Linked DNA regions of Homo sapiens: regions 1, 2 and 4 are each linked to region 3. The links come from fine-mapping of genetic effects on gene expression. A gene starts in region 3. Each other region holds a variant in brackets. All regions are shown on one strand. Distances are between the middles of the regions.

Region 1 (2,686 bases), 120 kb after region 3:
GAGAAGAGGTGTAACAAACCAGGGTCACCCCATGTCCCCATGTTCAGGGACAAAACACAGACGAGTCTGAGAATTTTAAATTTAAACCAGGTTTCCCAAGTCCTCGTAAAGGCACATTTGTCGTGGTAGGAGAATAGAACATACTTTAGTTAACAGTTTGTTCTCTTGATGTATAATTTTTTTAATATTCAGACATAAAGTATAAGTGAACTTCCATCTGTCCTCTTGCCTCAGTCCCTGAAAATGCCAGTGTCCACCCAGCATCCTCATGGGTGGCACGAAAACCCAGACACAGGCAATGATGCTGTCTCTACTGTCAACTCAGACCATCCATCCATGGGCCCACTCGACCCTCCGTGCTTTACTGTTTTCCATAATCTAATTCTTTTGCTATCATTATGACTCAAAGCAGTCTCTCTTGGACATGAGTTTGTACCCACCCTCAAATAGTCTCAATGGATAAGAGGTAATCCTGCTTCCTCCCCTGTACCTTGGGCTCCATGCTAACCACACCTGCCCTGTCTGGCCCCACTGCCAGAGGAAGGAGTCAGACGTCTGAACAAGAGGATGGGGTGAGGTAGAACATTGAGAGGAAAACCCTAAGCTTCAGAGAACCTGCAGAGCCTAGCAGAAATTATTTGGTAGTTGCAAATAGTGCAAAACTGAATAATAGGAAACTGGATTTGTGAAATATCCTATGTCCTTGTCACTCCTAACAAAAGACATGAATGCCATTGGTCAGCCAAGACAGACTTTTAAACATGCCTGAACTTCTGAGGCACAATTGCTGCCACCAAAACCACCTTTCTGGTGATGGCAACAGATATCTCTGAGAGCATTACATGGATTTTTATGACTCTTTCATAGACACACAAAATACTAAGTTATTTTGGAGAACTGTTACTTTCTTTATGCTTTTCCCTTGCTAATTTCTGGAGTCTGGTTGTGTGATGGTATTAAATATTAATACCTGTTATCGGCACATTTACTATGTTTAGAAGGTGTCATGGTATGTTGTTATTTTGATATTAGACACTGTGCTTCCGCTGACTGTCCACATGGAATCCGTGGGCTTACAAGGAAGACATTCTTCAGAGGAGGCTATCTGTTCTCCGGCCCACTTCCTAAGAGAAAGCATGGAAATTTTAAGGCTCTAATCCTACAACACATGGATGCAA[A/G]GACATGCACAAACACACAGCGTGGTCAATTTGCTTCACTGGTCGATATATTTCACTGGGAGTTTAGCACGTGTTTCCGTGGACTTTTTTCATTGTGTGATCTTCAATGCTGATGTGTTGACTTGGACAAACACCCGGAGACTTCTCTAGAATTCCAATTTGTGCAAAAATGAAAGGGCTGAGAAACATGATTGGCTAGTGGACTTGTAGAGAATAAAGTAGGTTTGTATGCTATAGAGAGAGGAAAGATCTTCAGATCATAGAACTCTGTAAGAAAAATCCAACCACAGAGAGAACACATGGACTCCCTAAACTCTTTCATTTCTTTGGTATTTCAAAGTGGTATCAAAAAATATGTATTTTTTTCCAGACCGGTTGCAGTGGCTCATGCCATCCCAGCACTTTGGGAGGCCAAGGCGGTCGGATCACTTGAGGCCAGGAGTTCAAGACCAGCCTGGCCAACATGGTGAAACTCTGTCTCTAACAAAATTACAAAAATTAGCTGGGCATGGTGGTGCACACCTGTGATCTCAGCTACTCAGGTAACTGAGGCAGCAAGACAATTGATGAACCAGGAAGGTGGAGATTGCAGTGAGCCGAGATCATGCCACTGTACTCCATCCTGGGCAACAGAGTGAGACTCTGTCTTAAAAAAAAAAAAAAAAAAAATTTCCAGCATGTTTTGTGGGTCAACAGCATGGTATGTGTGTTGCTGGCGTTTATCTGTCCTAGGAATTCTTAAAGATAAGCATGGCTCTTCCTATCATCTTATGCTTTAGAGGAAGTCATTCTTTTTTTTTTTTTTTTTTTTTTTTTTCTGAGACAGCGTCTCACTCTGTTACCCAAGCAGGAGTGCAGTTGCATGATTAATGCAGCCTTGACCTTCCAGGCTCAAGCGATTCTTCCACATCATCCTCCTGAGTGGCTGGGACCACAGATACATGCCACCATGCCCAGCTAATTTTCTGTAGAGATGAGGTTTTGCTGTGCTGCTGGGCTCAAGAGATCCTTCTGCCTTGGCCTCCCAAAATGCTGAGATTATAGATGTGAGCTGCTGCACCTAGCCGAGAAAGTCATTCTTTAAAAACCCTTCTCTTTAGCCTAGATGACTTCCTTGTAAAATCCTATGCACTTACTCATTCGGCAAACATTTACTGAGCACATACGTACCAGGCAGCACGTAAGGTATTAAAGACACCACTGTGAACAAGCAGATGAGATCTCTAATGTCTGGTTCCATAAAGGAAGATCTTTTCTTCTTCTCTCTTCAACCTCCATAGAAATGGAACCCACTAAGTCTAAAATAACAGACCGAACATATGGCTTCCTTTAACTATTCCCGATGGCAGCATTTTACTTGGTTAAGATGAGAGCCAGAAATATTTCGTGTCCTACTAGTGACAAATAATGTGGTTTCATGGATAAAGCACTGGTTTCAGTCTAGAGATCTAGTTTCTTACTTTTGCTATCTTTTATTACTTAAGTGTATGAAGAATCAAATAAAAGCC
Region 2 (2,686 bases), 110 kb after region 3:
ACAAAACACATAGCCATATATGCTTTTTATATCAAATTTCAAGCTTTTAAAAAACATTAACGTGAAATTGTGTTTCTAGATTAATTTTGGATATTTTATTTTATTTTATTTATTTTGAGACAGAGTCTTCCTGTGTCACCCAGGCGGGAGTGCAGTGGCATGATCTCAGCTCACTGCAAGTTCCACCTCCCAGGTTCAAATGATTCTCATGCCTCAGCCTCCTGAGTAGCTGGGATTACAGGCAGGCACCACCACACCAGCATAATTATTGTATTTTTAGTAGAGATGGGGTTTCACTATGTTGACCAGGCTGATCTCGATCTCCTGACCTCAAGCGATTCTCCCGCCTTGGCCTCCCAAAGTGCTGGGATTACAGGAGTGAGCCACCATACCTGGCCAGATTAATTTATTTTTCAACACACATGTTAGTGTTTTGCTGTGCGAAAACGTTAAACCATCACTAAGAATCTTGTTTATTTTTATTTTTTTTTTTGTTTAATGGAATGCATTTTTACATTTTTAAATAATTTCAAATTTACACAAAGTTTGCAAGTATAGTACAGAGACTCATAAGATGTCAGTTATCCAGATTAACACATTTTAACATTTTACCATATTTGTTTTATTTCTCTTTTTTACCTCTCACTCCACACACAACACGTGCACACATGCTCATGTGCACACACACACACTTTTTTCTAAACCATTGGACAGTAAGTTGCATGAGTCACGCCTCTTTACCACTCAATACTTTAGTGTTTACTTCTTAAGAACAAGGACATATTTTTACATCATCACAATCCAGTTACCAAATTCAGGAAATTTAACATTGATGCAATACTTTAATCTGTTGCCCATATTTCAGTTTTTCCAATTATCCCAATAATGTCATTTACAGCATTTTTTTTCAGTTAAGCATCCAACTGAGGATCATTTATTGAATTGAGTTGTCACTTCTGTTTAGAGACTCCTTCACTCTGAAATGTATCCTTAGCTTTTGTTGCCTTTTAAGACCTTTACGTTTTTAGAGCATGCAGGCCAATCATTTTTGTAGAGTGACCCTCAGTTTAGGTTTGTCTGATGCTCCTCACAGTAGATTCATGTTTTGCACCCGTGGCAGGAATGCCCCAGAGTGATGCGGTGGCCTCCTCAGTCCC[A/G]GATATCAGGAGGCACATGTGGCAGGTTTGTTTTATTCCTGGTGACACCAGCTCCAATAGTTTAGTTAAGATGGTGGTGTCCACCAAGTTTCTCTGCAGTGGGAGAATTTTAAGAGTTGTGGTTTGTCTAAAACTGAGAGATGAATCAAACTGGGAGGGTATTTAGACTTTGCTGGATGATGGCCCCAAAGCTGCTCTGAAAATGCTGTGCAGCTGGGTGAGCCGGCCTGCTCTCTGAACTGCAAGGCGTTTTCGTGGGACAAGAAAGGGCAGCATCAGCAGCCTGTTCTGTGGCTGGGGCTGCAAAAGCCATCAGTGTCGTCATGTCTGGCGTGGGGCATGCTGGTGCACAAAGAGCCGAACCAAGCTCCACAGCAGGAACTGACACCAAGCCAGGCCCCAAGGAGGCCTGTGAGTGTGGCCAGTTCCCTGCTTTGGTGACGTGATATTTATGCACCACGGCTCTTCTGAGGTTTCTCCAACTTTCCCATATAAAATGAAGATGGCCTTTCTTCTGAGCCAGGGCTGCCCAAGTGGCAGGCCACAAACCACGCATCGCCTGACCCAGGCTGGGGCAGCAGCGTCTCGGAGAAAAACAGGAAATTGGGACATACGCGCTTTCCACCGCCTGGCTACGTTATGAGTTTCTTAGTGGTTCCATGTGGCTTGAGTAACAGGGTAATTTTCCTTAATGCAGTAAAATACCCAAAGGAATGAAGATGTATTTTATTGGACAACGTTTTATTTTAGTAAATTATTTAGTGTCCAGCACTGTTTGAAGTACTCTTACAGATTCGCTCCTGAATTCATACCACACACTTTCACTGGGCCAGGAAACACGTGAAATGAGCAGGGCAGGTCTTAGGGTTTCATCCGGGTTTTATGATATGCTGGGCAGACCGTGAACATTCGACAACAGGCCGTGCTCCATCCTGTAGGGGCACACAGCCTATGTGAGATAAACAGACAGCTATAATCATGATGTTGTGGAGGCTGTCAGAGGGACCTTGGGGACCCAGAAAGGGGAAGGGCTGATAATGGGAATAGGTAATGAAGGGAAGCTAGCACAGAGATGATCTCTGACCTAAGTCTTGAGGGATAAAAAGGTGTTCACTAGCTGGGCATGCTGGCTCACACCTGTAATCCCAGCACTTTGAGAGGCCAAGGGGGGTGGATCACCTAAGGTCAGGAGTTCAAGACCAACCTGGCCAACATCGTGAAACCTTGTCTCTACTAAAAATACAAAAAGTTAGCTGGGTGTGGTGGCATGTGCCTCTAATTCCAGCTACTCGGGAGGCAGAGACAGGAGAATTGCTTGAACCGGGAGGTGGAGGTTGCAGTTGAGCCGAGATCACGCCACTGCACTCCAGCCTGGGTGACAGAGCAAGACTCCGTCTCAAAAAAAAAAAAAAAAAAAAAAAGTGTTCACCAGGTGGTGAGGCATTTTAAACAGAGACTGAGTGATGTATACAGAAACACGCAGGGTGGATGAGTCTGCGCTGGAGAGAGGGATTAGAAATGCAAATAAA
Region 3 (2,686 bases):
ATTAGAACTGCGCCTGGCACCAGCAGGTGTTCAATTATTTATTTAATGGGTGACTTGGAGCAGAAACCGAAGTGCAGTGGACTGTTTTCCTGGGATCTGAGCTGATGATAAATGATAAATAAGTCTTGGGATTTTAGAAGGCAGGAATCACGAAAACCAACACCAATGAAATCCAAGTCTCCTCTGCTACTATCTGAAGTGGAACAGAACAGAAATAAGGTCTGTTTTCTTTCCGCTTCGCTGTTCTGTTTCTGTCCAAAACAACCGTCTCTCTGACACCTTCGAGGTGTCCCTTTGTCTCTTTGAGGTTCCCTCCGTGACACTGGCTACTTTGTAACTCTAACACTGTCAGCAATTAATTCCCAAAGGTGAGGTCCCCGTGGGAAGTGGGAAAACCCAGCGAATCACCAGGGACCCGCCTGATTCCGAAAAGGCTGGATGCTGGCTGGGAACCGGCCCCGCAGCTCCGGCGTCCCCGCCTGCCTGCGCGGCCTTCAGCTGGGGTTACGGAGGGCTCCCAGCGCCGATCCAAACCGCGTTCCAGGCGGGGTGGGCGGGCCCCTGGCCAGCGAGGCCGAAGCAAAACAACCCGCCCAGGCGTCCAGAGCGTATCCAACCCTGGAGAACCTGCCCCGGAACCAAGAGCCGCAGCCAGCTCAGGCCTCTCGAGTGGGGCCTTTCCAGCCCCTGCAACAGATCCCGGGATCTGTAGTTGGGCGGAGGGGCTCGTTATGGGAAAGGGGTGCGTGCGCGTTTGTGCTAAAACAAGAAAGGCAAGAATCTCCGAGAACAAAACTCTGGTCCTCGCCTGGCCGGGGACCGCAGAAGACAGGGGCGGCAGCGCCAAGGCGGGTCAGGGGCCGGTCCAGCCAAGTTTGCTCCGGCTTAGATAAACTTTCTGATGGCAGTTTTTCCTGGTTGCAGCCTGGGTTCCTTGTAACAGGGTAAGCGTAGCGGGTGGTTGTCAAGAGGGGCGGAGGCTGGCGGTTACAGGGAATGGAGGGATGGGCCGGACCTGGGGTCGCGCAGGCGCCTTGGTCGCTGCCTCCGATCCGATCACCCCCGCCCCATCTCCTCTGCGAGCTCAGGAAGGTGGCTGGGGGAGGGGGATGGCTCCCTACTGCCGAGGGACGGCCCGAGGCAAACACAAAGCCCTTCCCTCCCCTCCTCCTCTTTCCTCTCCTCTCCCCTCCCCTCCCCTCCTTTCTCCCCCTTCCTCCTCTTCCTCCTCCTCCTCTTGCTCCTCCCGGGCGGGGAAACCCAGCCCCGCGCTCGTCTTTGGGGCCACCGGTCGCCCCCGCCTCCGGGACCTGCGGGGAGGGCCCGCGAGAGGTAAGGGGCGGTGGCAGCGGAGACCCCACCCCCTGTGCCCGCACCTAGAGAGCCCGGAGAGGCTCCGGGCACGGGCGGGGCTCTCTGGGGTTCCAGACGTGGGTGCTGCTGTGCGCACTCTCTCCCTACTCCGGAGGGGACTTGAGGAAGACAGCCAGAGCGCGTCCTCGGGGATCGTGGGGAACGGAAGGGGGAAGGGGGATCAGGGAGTGGGGACAAGGGGCAGAGTGACATTCCGGAGCGCGAGGTGGCCGCTGGTCCCGGCAGGGTCACCGGGTGTCCTCAGCTGACCTGTGCGGGGCTGGGGTGAGGGACAGCTGGAGGGTGCAGGCACTATGGCTCGAGGTGCGGAGGTGCGGGTGTGCGTGCGTGTGCACCGGACGGAGTTTGGTAGGGACCTTTGAGGAGTTCTACCTGCAGGGCTGCCTGTGGGGTGTCAAGTGCTCCCTGCGCCTGAGCGCGCGGGTCAGACCCGGTGTCGCACAGCTTTGATCCCCAGCGCGGACCCCACTGGTGAGTCCAGCCAGTGTGCAGGGCAGATGCTCCGACCGGAGATTTCCTCCCCCGGGTGGAAAAGCAGGAGGGTTGTTGTGTCCGGGCAGGGGGCACTTGGGCTGTCGCGGTGATTGATGGCTGCGCAGCGGGCGGAGGAGGAGCCCCGGATTCCTGCCGGGAAGGGACGGGGCCACTTTCCCACTTTGAGGCCTCCCCGCCCCCTTCTGGGCTTGGCCTCCACCCTTGGCCTGGGCTCCCACCAGCTCGGCGTCCACCCACCGGCGGTGGCGCGCCCCTCGACCGCGCGGGGACAGCAGGATTTGCAGAAGTTCAGCTTGAAAGCCTATGATATGTTGCCAAGAAATACAGGGCAAGATCGGTCCCCTGGGCCCTGAGAGGCGCCTGTCTTCTCAGAGCTCTTAAATCCCTGGGGCTTTCCTAATTCCGCAGTGTAGCGGCACTTCCTTGCGCGGTTTTGGGCACATTGGGGTTTCTTAGGAACACGCTGTCATCGGTAAGGAAACATCAGAGTACTCTTCGACCAAAAGGACTGTAAATACTGAAGCAAAAAGAAACACTTGCTGGGAGTGCAAAGGGCTTACTGGGAAAAAAGAAACACACAGGGCAGCACTCCATCATTAAGATAAATAGTATTTTAATACAATCTTTTTAACAAAACCAAATTGAATGTAAAAAATTCATGATAAGCAAAAATCAACATTTTAAATACAGGTGGGTGTTGTTAGAACCCTGCTTCATAGGCCGGGTGCAGTGGCTTATGCCTGTAATCCCAGCACTTAGGGAGGCCAAGGCAGGCAGATCACTTGAGGTCAGGAGTTCAAGACCAGCCTGGCCAACA
Region 4 (2,686 bases), 180 kb after region 3:
AAACTCAAATTAAAGAAAATATTTAAGCCGGGCAGGGTGACTCACACCTGTAATCCCAGCACTTTGGGAGGCTGAGGTGGGTGGATCACGAGGTCAGGAGTTTGAGACCAGCTTGGCCAACATGGTGAAACCCCCTCTCTAGTAAAAACACAAAAATTAGCCAGGCGCAGTGGCTCATGCCTGTAATCCCAGCTACTCAGGATGAGGCAAGAGAATTGCTTGAACCTGAAAGATGGAGGTTGTCATGAGCCGAGATCAAGCCACTGCACTCCAGCATGGGTGACAGAGTGAGACTCTATCTCAAAAAAAAAAAAAGAAAGAGAAAGTATTTATTCAGTGGATCATATTTACCAAAATACCATGAGAGTGGAGCCTGAAGATTTACACAACCTAAGGAGGGAAAAAATTGTAAACAAGTGAGTATCATGTAACGAAATGGGACATAATAGAATACGTCAGATGAACAGAGGAGGACAGCAGATGTCCCAAGAACCTCAGGTGGGAAGCAGGTAATTCTAGGTCAGAGGTACATCAATTTCATTAACGAATAAGAAGTGTAAGATAAAAAATGCCCTAAAGAGCTGTTCAGTCTATCTTGACTGGTGATATCTGTTATCTTTGGGAAGTTTTTTAAAAGAAACATTTAAGATTTCTTTTTTTGATAGCCAAAAGTAAAACGTGTACATGGTGGAAAAAGCACAATGCAGAAAATAAAAATAAACAACACCCTGACCCCGACCCCACCCCCACTCCAAGATAGAATCATTTTTGATTGTTTGTTGGGTTGGCTGATTTAATTCTTTGCTTTGATGTGTATCCTTCTGATGTTTTTGCATGACAATCCATTTAAATGGTAGATCATGCATGATTTTTCACTGACCTACAAGGTGTTTTTGATCATCCTAGAAATGCAGTTTCCTAGAAATTGATTCTGTTTTTGTTGACGGGTAGCACCTTCCAATGTAGTGGCTAGCTTATCTGTTTACAGTAAACCTTGGCCACACAATGTCACCAGCAGCATACTCCAGAGTTGGAGCTATTTTGACCTTGGCCACACAATGTCACCAGCAGCATACTCCAGAATTGGAGCTATTTTGTGCTCTGTAGGCTTTGCATTGCTGCTATATTGGCAATTGGTTCTGCCATAAAATATCTGCTTAGTTAGAATTCATCTGCTAGGAAATAACACCAGTGTAACCCAGAGCAATTAAATACTAGAAACTGCCAATCCATGGAACACTTGCCTTTCCGTGAAGCAGGGTGCATGCCCCGGGCTTGAAGGGCATCGGGACCAAGACTGGAGCCCGCCTGGCTCCTTCTTCTGCCTGTTTTCAGCTCCAAGGGCAACCAGGACAACAGGTTCTTTGTTCCTCTTTCTTATTTTTACAGGAAC[A/G]AATGAAAGCCTCTGCCAGCATTCGCTCTGTATCTGGCCTTCTCATCTCTAGCTGGAGAGTCAACCAGAGGAAGTTCCTGGGCAAAACAGCTACCACTTTTTCTTACCTCCCGAAATGGCAGCGTCTCCCTGGAGGCAGACATGAGCTTTTGTTCCCATTTCTGTGTCCTCTTCTGCTGGGCCTCAGTTGATAGAACTTAAAAATTACCAAAGGCCCTAAAGGTTTTTCAGAATAGTCCTACTGTGACATGCTCTTACAAATCTTTTTTGAGGAAGTTGGGGCTCCACCCTCAAAAAGCAGCAGCCCTTCGCCATGGAGGAATAAAATCTGTAACCCCAAATATGCTAGTGATTCTTTTTCCTTTTAGAGTTTAATGGGACAAAAAAAGGCCTTGAGGAATTAAGTATGAACTTGCTTGCTCTAGGGAAACTCCCTAAGTCGGAAAACTGGACCTAGGACCAGTTTTATCAATTTCTAGCATTTTGATCTCAAATAAGGAGATAAACTGGATGGCCTCTGATAGCCCTTAAAACTTGGCTAAATATGCAGGGGTCCTTCTAAGACAATCCATTTCCCCATGCCTCTCTGCCCACCACTCTTCCCATGCTGGGTGGTGGGTAAAAGGTTTCTTCTGCTCACCTGGCAATTTCCATGCTGTCAACTGTGTTAGCCAGGCCAGGGTCCTGCCGTGTCCAGAATAATGGATTGGGGTTTCCCTTCTTCTCCAGACTAATAGAATATTACAGAGACATGTTTAATTCCATTTCAATATCCTTTTTTTTTTTTTTTTTTTTTTTTTTTACCTATAACTAGACTCAAGTTCTGAACTTCAAAATTCTAAAGAAATATTTTTATGTCTGAAGGTGTTAAGAAATCATTGGATATCAACTTCTATGTATTTTTGAAGTTGAAGTTTTTCTGGGAATTTTTTGTTTGCTCTGTGTGTGTGTATGTCTTTAACACAAATTGGAATTTGTCCTGTGCCAAAGATTTTTAGTTGATAGATATCTTCAGTATGGGCCATTATTTTCTGTCTCTCTACATAAGGGGCCTCTGGTACTAATATTCTTCCACAAGTTGTTGATCCCAGACCCACCACCTCTCTTCTCCCAACCCCGCTAAGTCCTGGCTTCATCTCCCACCTATCCAGGCATCTTGGCTGCAGCTTGGCATTTGAGGTGTATATTTGTGTTCCTTTTGATACATGGTCAAGGATCTACTGCCCCAAGATCAGGACCATGGTGGGCACAAGACTCTTGACTTCTGTCTCATCCTTGATTCATAAGATGACC

Direction of the effects. Alleles are on the strand shown, and positions count from the first base shown. SD is a standard deviation of normalised expression in the study named. Not every link is listed here.
With allele G in place of A in region 2, the expression in transverse colon of the gene that starts at base 1,263 in region 3 is lower (small effect, 0.25 SD a copy in GTEx).

Evidence for each region. PIP is the estimated chance that this variant, and not a neighbour inherited with it, causes the effect. A credible set is the group of variants that fine-mapping cannot tell apart.
Region 1: its variant is the best candidate, but not a certain one, in a credible set for the expression of RIN2 in blood mononuclear cells (TOPMed, PIP 0.67).
Region 2: its variant is the best candidate, but not a certain one, in a credible set for the expression of RIN2 in transverse colon (GTEx, PIP 0.84).
Region 4: its variant is the best candidate, but not a certain one, in a credible set for the expression of RIN2 in whole blood (INTERVAL, PIP 0.60).

Annotation. Positions count from the first base shown.
Region 1 is chr20:19,878,424-19,881,109 of GRCh38, forward strand. The region is part of intron 2 of RIN2 (Ras and Rab interactor 2); the gene reads left to right. Among named protein-coding and RNA genes, the nearest start is that of RIN2, 120 kb to the left of the region's middle. The variant A/G (reference allele first, on the strand shown) is at 1,179.
Region 2 is chr20:19,866,527-19,869,212 of GRCh38, forward strand. The region is part of intron 2 of RIN2 (Ras and Rab interactor 2); the gene reads left to right. Among named protein-coding and RNA genes, the nearest start is that of RIN2, 110 kb to the left of the region's middle. The variant A/G (reference allele first, on the strand shown) is at 1,158.
Region 3 is chr20:19,756,996-19,759,681 of GRCh38, forward strand. RIN2 (Ras and Rab interactor 2) reads left to right here and starts at 1,263. Exons shown (of 13, transcript NM_018993.4): 1 at 1,263-1,332. RefSeq lists an enhancer at 1,652-2,226.
Region 4 is chr20:19,941,808-19,944,493 of GRCh38, forward strand. The region is part of intron 4 of RIN2 (Ras and Rab interactor 2); the gene reads left to right. Among named protein-coding and RNA genes, the nearest start is that of NAA20, 74 kb to the right of the region's middle. The variant A/G (reference allele first, on the strand shown) is at 1,394.